Regions from separate parts of the Homo sapiens genome. Here regions 1 and 3 are each reported to be linked to region 2. The links are microRNA targets in miRTarBase. Many come from high-throughput screens and were not tested one by one. Region 2 holds a microRNA gene; each other region holds the end of a gene's coding sequence.
What was found. Region 2 holds the annotated microRNA hsa-miR-548g-3p (AAAACUGUAAUUACUUUUGUAC, at 1,963-1,984, opposite strand). A microRNA usually pairs through its seed, bases 2 to 8, with sites in the 3' UTR of a target mRNA and lowers its output. Matches are read on the target gene's strand: a 7mer-m8 pairs with bases 2 to 8, a 7mer-A1 pairs with bases 2 to 7 and ends in A, and an 8mer does both.

Region 1: the mRNA of RAG1 is a reported target of hsa-miR-548g-3p. Seed matches in the 3' UTR shown: 7mer-A1 at 1,473-1,479.
Region 3: the mRNA of PGD is a reported target of hsa-miR-548g-3p. Seed matches in the 3' UTR shown: 8mer at 427-434.

What each region holds. Positions count from the first base shown.
Region 1 is chr11:36,575,957-36,578,956 of GRCh38, reverse strand. RAG1 (recombination activating 1) reads right to left here. Exons shown (of 2, transcript NM_000448.3): 2 at 1-3,000. The coding sequence ends at 2,521. Among named protein-coding and RNA genes, the nearest start is that of RAG1, 9.4 kb to the right of the region's middle.
Region 2 is chrX:32,639,524-32,642,672 of GRCh38, forward strand. It overlaps MIR548F5 (microRNA 548f-5), which reads right to left and starts at 2,036; the gene lies at 1,951-2,036. The region is part of intron 11 of DMD (dystrophin); the gene reads right to left.
Region 3 is chr1:10,419,461-10,422,460 of GRCh38, forward strand. It overlaps PGD (phosphogluconate dehydrogenase), which reads left to right. Exons shown (of 13, transcript NM_002631.4): 12 at 1-79; 13 at 170-1,051. The coding sequence ends at 289. Among named protein-coding and RNA genes, the nearest start is that of CENPS, 9.5 kb to the right of the region's middle.

The sequences.
Region 1 (3,000 bases), not on the chromosome of region 2:
AAACTTGTAGATTCAGGTTTCACAGGAGAAAAATACATTGCACTTCTGAAGTCCCAGTATATACTTCACACATACACACACAAATGCTCGATTCAGTGTGGTGAATTTCCCTGGAGTATATAATTGCACTTGCAATAGGCATTGCTAAAAATAAAACTCTAGTATAAAACTAGGGTCTAGGATATTGCAGTCTCAACAGTAAGGGCAAAAAACCATAGGCAGCGTTTCTACATATTGAAATTCCTGCAGCCAGATGTTCCCAGGGTTTATCAAAATGTGATCTGATTAAGGGATTATTGGAAAGGTTGTGCTATAAATCATGCTCTTAGTCACATGCATTCAAAATAGTTCCTACAGTGTTAGAAAAGGATAATTTAATACTGGAAAGTATTTACAGTGCCACCAATAGAGAAAAAGAGTAGAAATGGGTAAAAAATCTATAAACCAGCATGACCATGCTTCAGTAAATAGGATGATTATGTGAATTTAGCTGTTTATTAGTGCAGAGACATGCTGGAAGGATTAAGCAGGATGAAGGGAAAGTGTGGCTTAGTGGCCCACTCATTTCCAAAAAAACAAAACCAAGAGTTTTCAAAAAAACTAATGTTAAAATATGTATATGTTTTTGACAACTAAATTAGAAATGACTTTGATATTCTGCATATAAAAAGCAAGGAAAACTGCTGTGTTTTTTAATGAAAGATACTGAGTTCAATCCCTGAAGAAGCACCAAATACATACAATTAAAGATAATGTCGCCGATGCACTTTTGACAACTAAATTATCAAGCTCTTTGATATACTGTGTATGAAGAGTAGCAATTATGGCCAATAAAATCAAAGGAAGAAAAAACTAATTAACACTAACATATCATTATGACTCACTAGCATATAAAATTCCATGCCTGCTCTACATTGCCAGCAACTGGCAAATCCCAGATTCCTAAGGATGCAGATCATAGTTTCCAAATAACTGGAGCCACAAGAGGGTTAGGGGGCCCTTTGGAGCTTTTGTGTTGCTTTCTTCTATCAAAAGAGCCAGAGCACACAAATGATTTAAAAACTTGCTTACCCCTGCCCCATAAAAATGTAATCCCAAGGTCATGTGCTATAGTGATTAGTTGTGAATCCTAAAAAAATTCTGATACTACCTTATAAACATAGTGATTAATTTGTGGTGGAAAGAAGAAGGGCTTTGGAGACAAAAGGACTGTGTTAAATTTCCAAGCCAAGTATTTATTACCCCTAAATGACTTTGAGCAAATCATTTAAACCCCCATCAAATGGAGATAATAACAACACCTACTCCTCAGAATTGTTGTAAGGAAAAATGAGTGTGAAAACATTCCACAGTGGTAAAAAGCACTGTGTAAATGTTAACTCTTCTGCTGTACTGCGTTTGGACTCCATCTAAACTTAGCGGATGGAAAAATACAAGGTTATCCTGCTACACAATTCTGAATCCACTGAAAGTAAACTGATCATTATAGAAAGAATAACACATTGCAGAGGAGAGGACTCTATGAAACCTAGATTTAGAAAAATTGATTCAGGTTTCATTTGGAGAAAGTCTGGCAAAATGTTTCAGTAAGACATGAAATATATTTTTAGACATCAAGCTAACCTATATTTTTACAAGCCTCTGTGGCTTTAAGACTGTATGCAGAAGCTCTAAATTTGGAAACTCTAAATTTCTTGAAATGAAAAAGTAAAAATAAAGAATCATACTTGGCTTCTGATAGCTAAGTAAACATATATTATCAGAAGATTTAATAACTAACTGTAGCTAACAGGTGTATTCTAAATTCATTATTGAAAAATCCATGACAGCAGATGACCTCCTAAACTCTGAAGGTTACAATAGATACATAATTTAAACATAAAAAAGGACTGATTTTCTCAAAGTTGTCCTGATGTAACATATTTATATAACGAATGGGTAAATGCATTGAGAGCACTTTGTAAAGGTCATCATGCTGTACAAATGTAAGATATTATTAGAAAAATTTAAAAAGCTCTTTTGAATCTTATATAGCAAGCCAAGATATGTAAAATTATAAAAATGAAGAATTATTCAAAAATGAAATAGAAGGCACTTATCATATCTCAATACAAAATATAATCAATCAAGGGGGAAAAAAATGAAAACCACAAGACCAATTTCTTTCCTGGCCTCACTGGCTGTTCTTTGACAACCTTGGCTTTGATTTACATGACAGCTCCCCAACACACACAGATCTTTGCTCATCTCTGGTCCCCTGCAGTTACTCCTGTTCTGAGTTACTGAGCTTTCAGATAACTGATTTTTCCTGTTGCTTTTCGGAACTCACTAAAAGCCTCAAGCAATCAGCTCATCAGTTTCTATTCCTGACTTGAGAGCATCTGTAGCATCTTACTCCAACCTACCACCTCTTGGATGGTGAAGCCCCATACACAGCAGTAAAGGGTGCTAGGAGAAGCCCTCAATGCAACCCAGAGGGAAACTCAATTGCAAAAACCAACTCATAAGTGGTTGCCCTACTTAAAATTCCATTGAATCTTGGCTTTCCAGAGAGTCCTCTATGCCTAATGGGTCCCCTAAGCTTGCCTGAGGGTTCATGGTAAACCCAGAGGTTTTTAATGCATTATGAGCATTCATAAACTTCTGGAGGTATTTGGAGGTGTACAACCAGTGGTGTTTCAGGACATCTTCCATCTCATAGCATTTGGACTGCCTGGCATTCATTTTCCGGAAGCGCCTAAACAGTTTGTTACCAGACTCATTTCCCTCACTTGCCCATGCCCCAATGGAGCCATCCCTCTCAATAATTTCAGGAACATGGGCCAGGGTTTTGTGAAAATAATTGGTGATTTTTCCCTCATACCTATACTTGAACTTCGTAGAAAGGAGCTCAGCAAAACGCTGTGAATTGAAACTGTACTGGCAGAGGGATTCTGGGCACTCTTTAGCAGGGCATGATGATCGCCATACTGGTTTCATCTTCAGGTAAAGATCCATCAG
Region 2 (3,149 bases):
ACCAGTATCGGCACGTGCCAAACTCATTTGTGACTGGAGATGTGTTAATAAACTTCTTTATTGTATTAGCTTTTACCTCATCAGAAATTTATGTCCATAAAAGCAACAGAATTGGAGGGAAAATACAATAGCAAGGAAAGAATCAAATGAGAGTGTGGTTATGAAGGAGAAAGAAAGGAGGAAGTATCTGTATGGTTATCTTTCCTGACATTCCTTTGTAAGCATATTTTTAAATGTTGCCATTGTGAAAAAATAACTGCAAATGTATTTCTAATCATCCTGCTCATGCTCCCTTATCCCCATACAAAATAACCACAGCTATACTCTTTGGGAAAAAAAAATGACTGAGGCAATTAGAAAAGGCTGGAGAAAAAAAGTAAAAAACATCTATGAGGGTCAGGTTTGGTAGCTCAGGTCTGTAATACTAGTACTTTGGGAGGCCAAGGTGGGAGAGGATCACTTGAGGCCAGGAGCTTGAGACTAGCCTGGGAAACATAACAAGACCTCATTCCCTGCAAAATTTTTTTAAAAGTTAAAAAATTATATATAAGTTATTATACAAAATATATGAAATATAATTATATATAAAATTATATAATACTTCATATAGAAAATATCAAATTACATATAAAAAGTGACATGGTATGGTAAAATAGTTAACTGACAGCTCATCATCTTATTTATCACAGTTATCTTTCTTCACATTTTATAATAATTTTGCATTCACAAACTAACTTTTTATACCCTATCTCATCTAGTATCTTTCAGAGGTATGTCAGCCTCATGACACTATTGCTGTTTTACAAAACTATAAAGTAGAGAACAGAAAAGAAAAGTATATTGCCCCAGTTCACATAAATAAGTGTTTGAGAAAGCAAGCCCTTATTCCTTAGGCAAACTGGAGAGGATTTTATGTAAGGCAGAAATCAGGGCACGCTATTATCTTTGTATTTTTAATATTTCTTGTTTTGCATAATTGTTGATGGTTTATGGGATAAATATTATTTCCTAGATGCAACTTGAATAATAGTAACTGTGGGCACAAATTGAAGCAGTCTATTTCCAAAGGAAAAAGCACTTTTACTGTCAAAAGGAAAAAAAAATAGGAACTAAAACTAAACAGAGAAGTGGTTTTTAAAATAACTAAATGGCTAAGATAGTAAAGTATACTTTTATCACAACTACCAGCTGGTCTAAGACACTACTGTGTCTTAACTGGCCAACTTCACTGGCCTAATAACTGTCCTCTCTTCCTCCAGTGGCCTTCCTGATAGGTTTTCTTGACCTATCTCTCACCTACATAAAATCTGATGGCTTTGTCTTGCACTTAGTCTAGAATTCAAAGCCCTTATTCAAAGCCCTGACTGACACTACAATATGTAATCAGTCTCCTACCTATATTTCAACCCCATCTCAGACCTCAGCCATCTAACTTACCACCCTGCAACTCTACAGTCCCCCTGGCCTTTTGGTTCCTCCAGCAAGCCAAACTGTCCCTATTTTTGGGCCTTTGCATTAGCTGTTCCTAATCCGTGAACCACACTTCCTTGTGATCTGCAAATAGTGGTACCTTCTTGTCATTCAAATCTCAAACTAAATGGTACCAACCTTCAAAGTCTTACCTGGATCACAAAGTCTAAAGTAGCCTCCCCTCAACCATTCTCTATCACATTACATTTTAATCTCTTCAAAAACTATATTCCTATCCGGTATTTTTCTTGTGTTCTTTTTTTTCTTGGCTGCCAGCCTCTACAGAATATGTTTCATGAGATCTGGGGCCAGACCTTGTATGATCATTATTGAGTCTCCAGTGCCATTAATTGTTTTTGATAATGTATTCCATTAATATTTGTTCATATAGAGAGATATATGTGTATTTTATACGTATATATATATATATATATATATATATATCTCACAATGACTATATATCAAATATAATTTGATGTTGCTATTAGGTTGGTACAAAAGTAATTACAGTTTTTCCCATTACTTACAATGGAAAAAAACATGATTACTTTTGCAGCAACCTAATAGTAAGTATGTTGGTAGATAGGATTAATAATTGCTAAGTGTAAATGTTCATAGATTTTAGTGATAAGCTTATCTGTATTTACAAGAAGTTTTTAACTTTTGTTATATCAACTTAGAAATTATAGCATAGCTTTGGATATACTTAATATGACTAGACAAATGTTAATTATCATTTCTCTAATCGCTAAACCAAGGCTTAGGCAGGAAATAATGGCTTCCGACTGGATCTATCCAAACCCTGTCTTAGGTAGAGAGAGAAAAGAAGTATCGATGAATCCATTTTTGTTTACTAGTAATCTTCTACTCTGAAGTAATCATATATTTAGAAAAAAAATAGGTAATGCTCCAAGTTGAAGCTAATCATTGGAGATAATCCATTCTCATGACCATGATAATGGAAACTGAACAGGTTATAATTTATTTGAAGCATTAAGTAAAACCTAGATTAGTTTTTTAAAAATAATGACAATACCCTCTTTTCATAATCACGTTTTTTGTTTCCTCTCACAAAATCTTTCAAAAATCAGGTTCAGCAAAGCTTACATAATGGCTTATCACATTAGAATTTAATAGGTTTTATGCACGAACACATACATAGTCAAAGTGGCAAGGAAGACTGTTATTTATAAACTCTCATATTATTTCTGAATTTGTGTTGCTCAAATAATGCTTTGTATATTCATTTTTAAGGAATTTTCCAGAAAAGTCTATGTGATAGAAGTGGTTACATGTACGTGTCTCATTTTAAAAACTCTGTGAGATGTTTTAGCAAAAGCTATACCAGCTAGAAGGCTCTCCTTGCCTTCTTAATAATTATTCTAAAAGCTGTAACACGTACAAAAGCTCTTGAATCTTCCCTAAGGACAAACTAATTTTTTATGTCAATCTCAGCTAGGTGGTAATACTGCCATTTTAGCATTTCCATTCTCTAGTGGGATGGGGATGAGGAAATTACACGCACAGAAGTCTAGGTGTCTGTCATCCTTCACTTAATGGCAGACATCCCTTGAAGGGGGGAATTTTTGAATGAACATCTTTTTAAATGTTAGAATCACAGATAAAAGACTTTTTTTATGTTTCAGATAAGCAAAGAAAAAGTTGCAATTTTAATTCCA
Region 3 (3,000 bases), not on the chromosome of region 2:
TCCCATGCCCTGTTTTACCACTGCCCTCTCCTTCTATGACGGGTACAGACATGAGATGCTTCCAGCCAGCCTCATCCAGGTAAGCCTGTGGAGCAGGGATTAACCTGGCTGGCCCCTCGGGGGCGTGCGCCATGGACTGTCCTGACCAACCTACTCTCTCGTTTCCTAGGCTCAGCGGGATTACTTCGGGGCTCACACCTATGAACTCTTGGCCAAACCAGGGCAGTTTATCCACACCAACTGGACAGGCCATGGTGGCACCGTGTCATCCTCGTCATACAATGCCTGATCATGCTGCTCCTGTCACCCTCCACGATTCCACAGACCAGGACATTCCATGTGCCTCATGGCACTGCCACCTGGCCCTTTGCCCTATTTTCTGTTCAGTTTTTTAAAAGTGTTGTAAGAGACTCCTGAGGAAGACACACAGTTTATTTGTAAAGTAGCTCTGTGAGAGCCACCATGCCCTCTGCCCTTGCCTCTTGGGACTGACCAGGAGCTGCTCATGTGCGTGAGAGTGGGAACCATCTCCTTGCGGCAGTGGCTTCCGCGTGCCCCGTGTGCTGGTGCGGTTCCCATCACGCAGACAGGAAGGGTGTTTGCGCACTCTGATCAACTGGAACCTCTGTATCATGCGGCTGAATTCCCTTTTTCCTTTACTCAATAAAAGCTACATCAGACTGATGCTCTTTCTCCAGATTCTTAGTCTCACCTCGGCCACATGGAGCCATTATCCCCATTGGCAGAAAGATTTTTCTTTAAAAAAAAAGACTAGAATAACACAAGAAACCACATTTAGGATTATGCTTCACTCAGAGGAGGCAGGCAGGGAGGACACACCAGGGGCTTTAATACACTGGGCATGTTTTCTTTCTCCAATTGGGCAATGGGTACATGGACGTTCACTGTAACGTGCTTTTTCTTTCGTCTTTTTTTTTTTTTTTTTTTTTTTTGCTCCTGGCAAGCTGTGCGTGACATTCTTTATGGCTTTTTGTATGTCAAATACTTCATACTAAACTTTCTAGAGAATTAAACTTTAATGATGGGCTCAGCTTGGTCTGATTTATTTCCTTTCCCACACCTGTCTCTACTTGCTCTAAGCCAGGCCCAGGGATTTTGAACAAGCTAAGCCGGCTCCTTAAACTAGGCTTTTCACTTTATCTTACTTACTCAGAGAAGATAAAACCTGCCAGTGATATTGTTGTGTGGCCTGGGGCCAGTGTGACTGTTCCCTGCAGCGGTTTGACTTCATGATGATTTCCCTGGAGTGTTAAAGTCCTAAGAGTTGCCTAAGAGGAGCGAGCAGCGCCTGTGCCTCGACAGCTGGTGTCTACAGTGTGACCTCTGACCTCTCGGCTAATGTCAGTGAAGGAGACAATTTTCATTAAATCACCAACTTTTAATTTATTTTTCTTTTTTTTGAGACAGAGTCTCGCTCTGTCACCCAGGCTGGAGTGCAGTGGCGTGGTCTTGGCTCATTGCAAGCTCCACCTCCCGGGTTCACACCATTCTCCCACCTCAGCCTCCAGAGTAGCTGGGACTACAGGTGCCCGCCACCACTCCTGGCTTATTTTTTTGTATTTTTAGTAGAGACGGGGTTTCACCATGTTGGTCAGGATGGTCTTGATCTCCTGACCTTGTGATCCGCCCACCTCGGCCTCCCAAAGTGCTGGGATTACAGGCGTGAGCCACCGTATTTTAAAATTTTGTTTAGAGATGTGGTCTTGCTATGATGCCCAGGCTGATGTCAAACACCTGGACTCAAGCAATCCTCGTGCCTCGACCTCCCAAGGTGCTGGGATTATAGGCAGGAGCCACCGTGCCCTGCTACCAACTTTTTAAACTCTGCCTAGATGTGAGTACTTCGCTAGATCAGCCCCCACGCACCCCTCCTGCCCTCCCTGTACATTTAAGAGAAGCCCGAGTAGCCGCACGTGACGGGATTTTTCTTTAAGGCTTGTCAAAGGCACTGTTCGAGGGGGATCTTTTCACCTGGCTCTGAGGCTGAGGGATGGACACTGCTGGAATGGAGAGAGAACAGCAAGAGGTCAGAGGCTAAGTGTCAAAGGGCCCACGATGTTTCAAACAGTAATGATCAGAAGGGAATCCACTCAGCCCCTTTCCGCTTACCTTCCAAAAAGCTGTGAGTGGTGGAGTTTGGTTTCAAATCCAGCCCTCCTTGCTTACTAGCTGTTAGACTTTGGGGAAATTATTTACTATCTGTGTTCTCAGTTTTCTCATTTGTAAAATGGGAAATAATAGCACCTGTGTCCTTGAGGCTACTTTGGGGATTCAGCAAGGGAAGATAGAGCAGTGCCTGGCACATAGTAAATACCTACACCAGTGGCAGCAAGGCTGGGTGCGCTGGCTCACACCGTAAGCCCAGCACTTTGGAAGGCCGAGGTGGGAGGACTGCTTGAGCCCAGGAGTCTGAGACCAGCCTGGGCAACATAGTGAGACCCCCATCTCTACAAAAAATAAAAATTAGCTGGGCGCAGTGGTGCACACCTATGATCCCAGCTAGGTGGCAGGCTGAGGTGGGAGGATCGCTTAAGCCCAGGAGATGGAGGTTGCAGTGACCCATGACCACACCACTGTACTCCAGCCTCGGTGATAAAGCAAAACCCTGTCTCAAAAAAAAAAAAAAATAGTGGCAGCAATTACTACCATTGAGTGTGCCTGACCCCTGGACCCCTGGAGCAGTGGTGGTTTTTTTTTAGACTGGGTCTTGCTCTTGCCCAGGCTGGAGTGCAGTGATTCAATCACTGCTCACTGCAACTTTGAACTCCCCGAATTCAGGTGGTTCCTCCTGTCTCAGCCTCCCGAGTCGCTGGTTCTACGGGCATGTGCCACCACGCCCCACTAATTTTTTGTATTTTTTGTAGAGACAAGGTCTCACCATGTTGTCTAGGCTGGTCTCAAAACTCCAGGGCTCAAGTGATGCTGCTCCCACCTCAGCTTCCCAAAGTGCTGGGATTACAGGCAGAAGCCACTACCCCC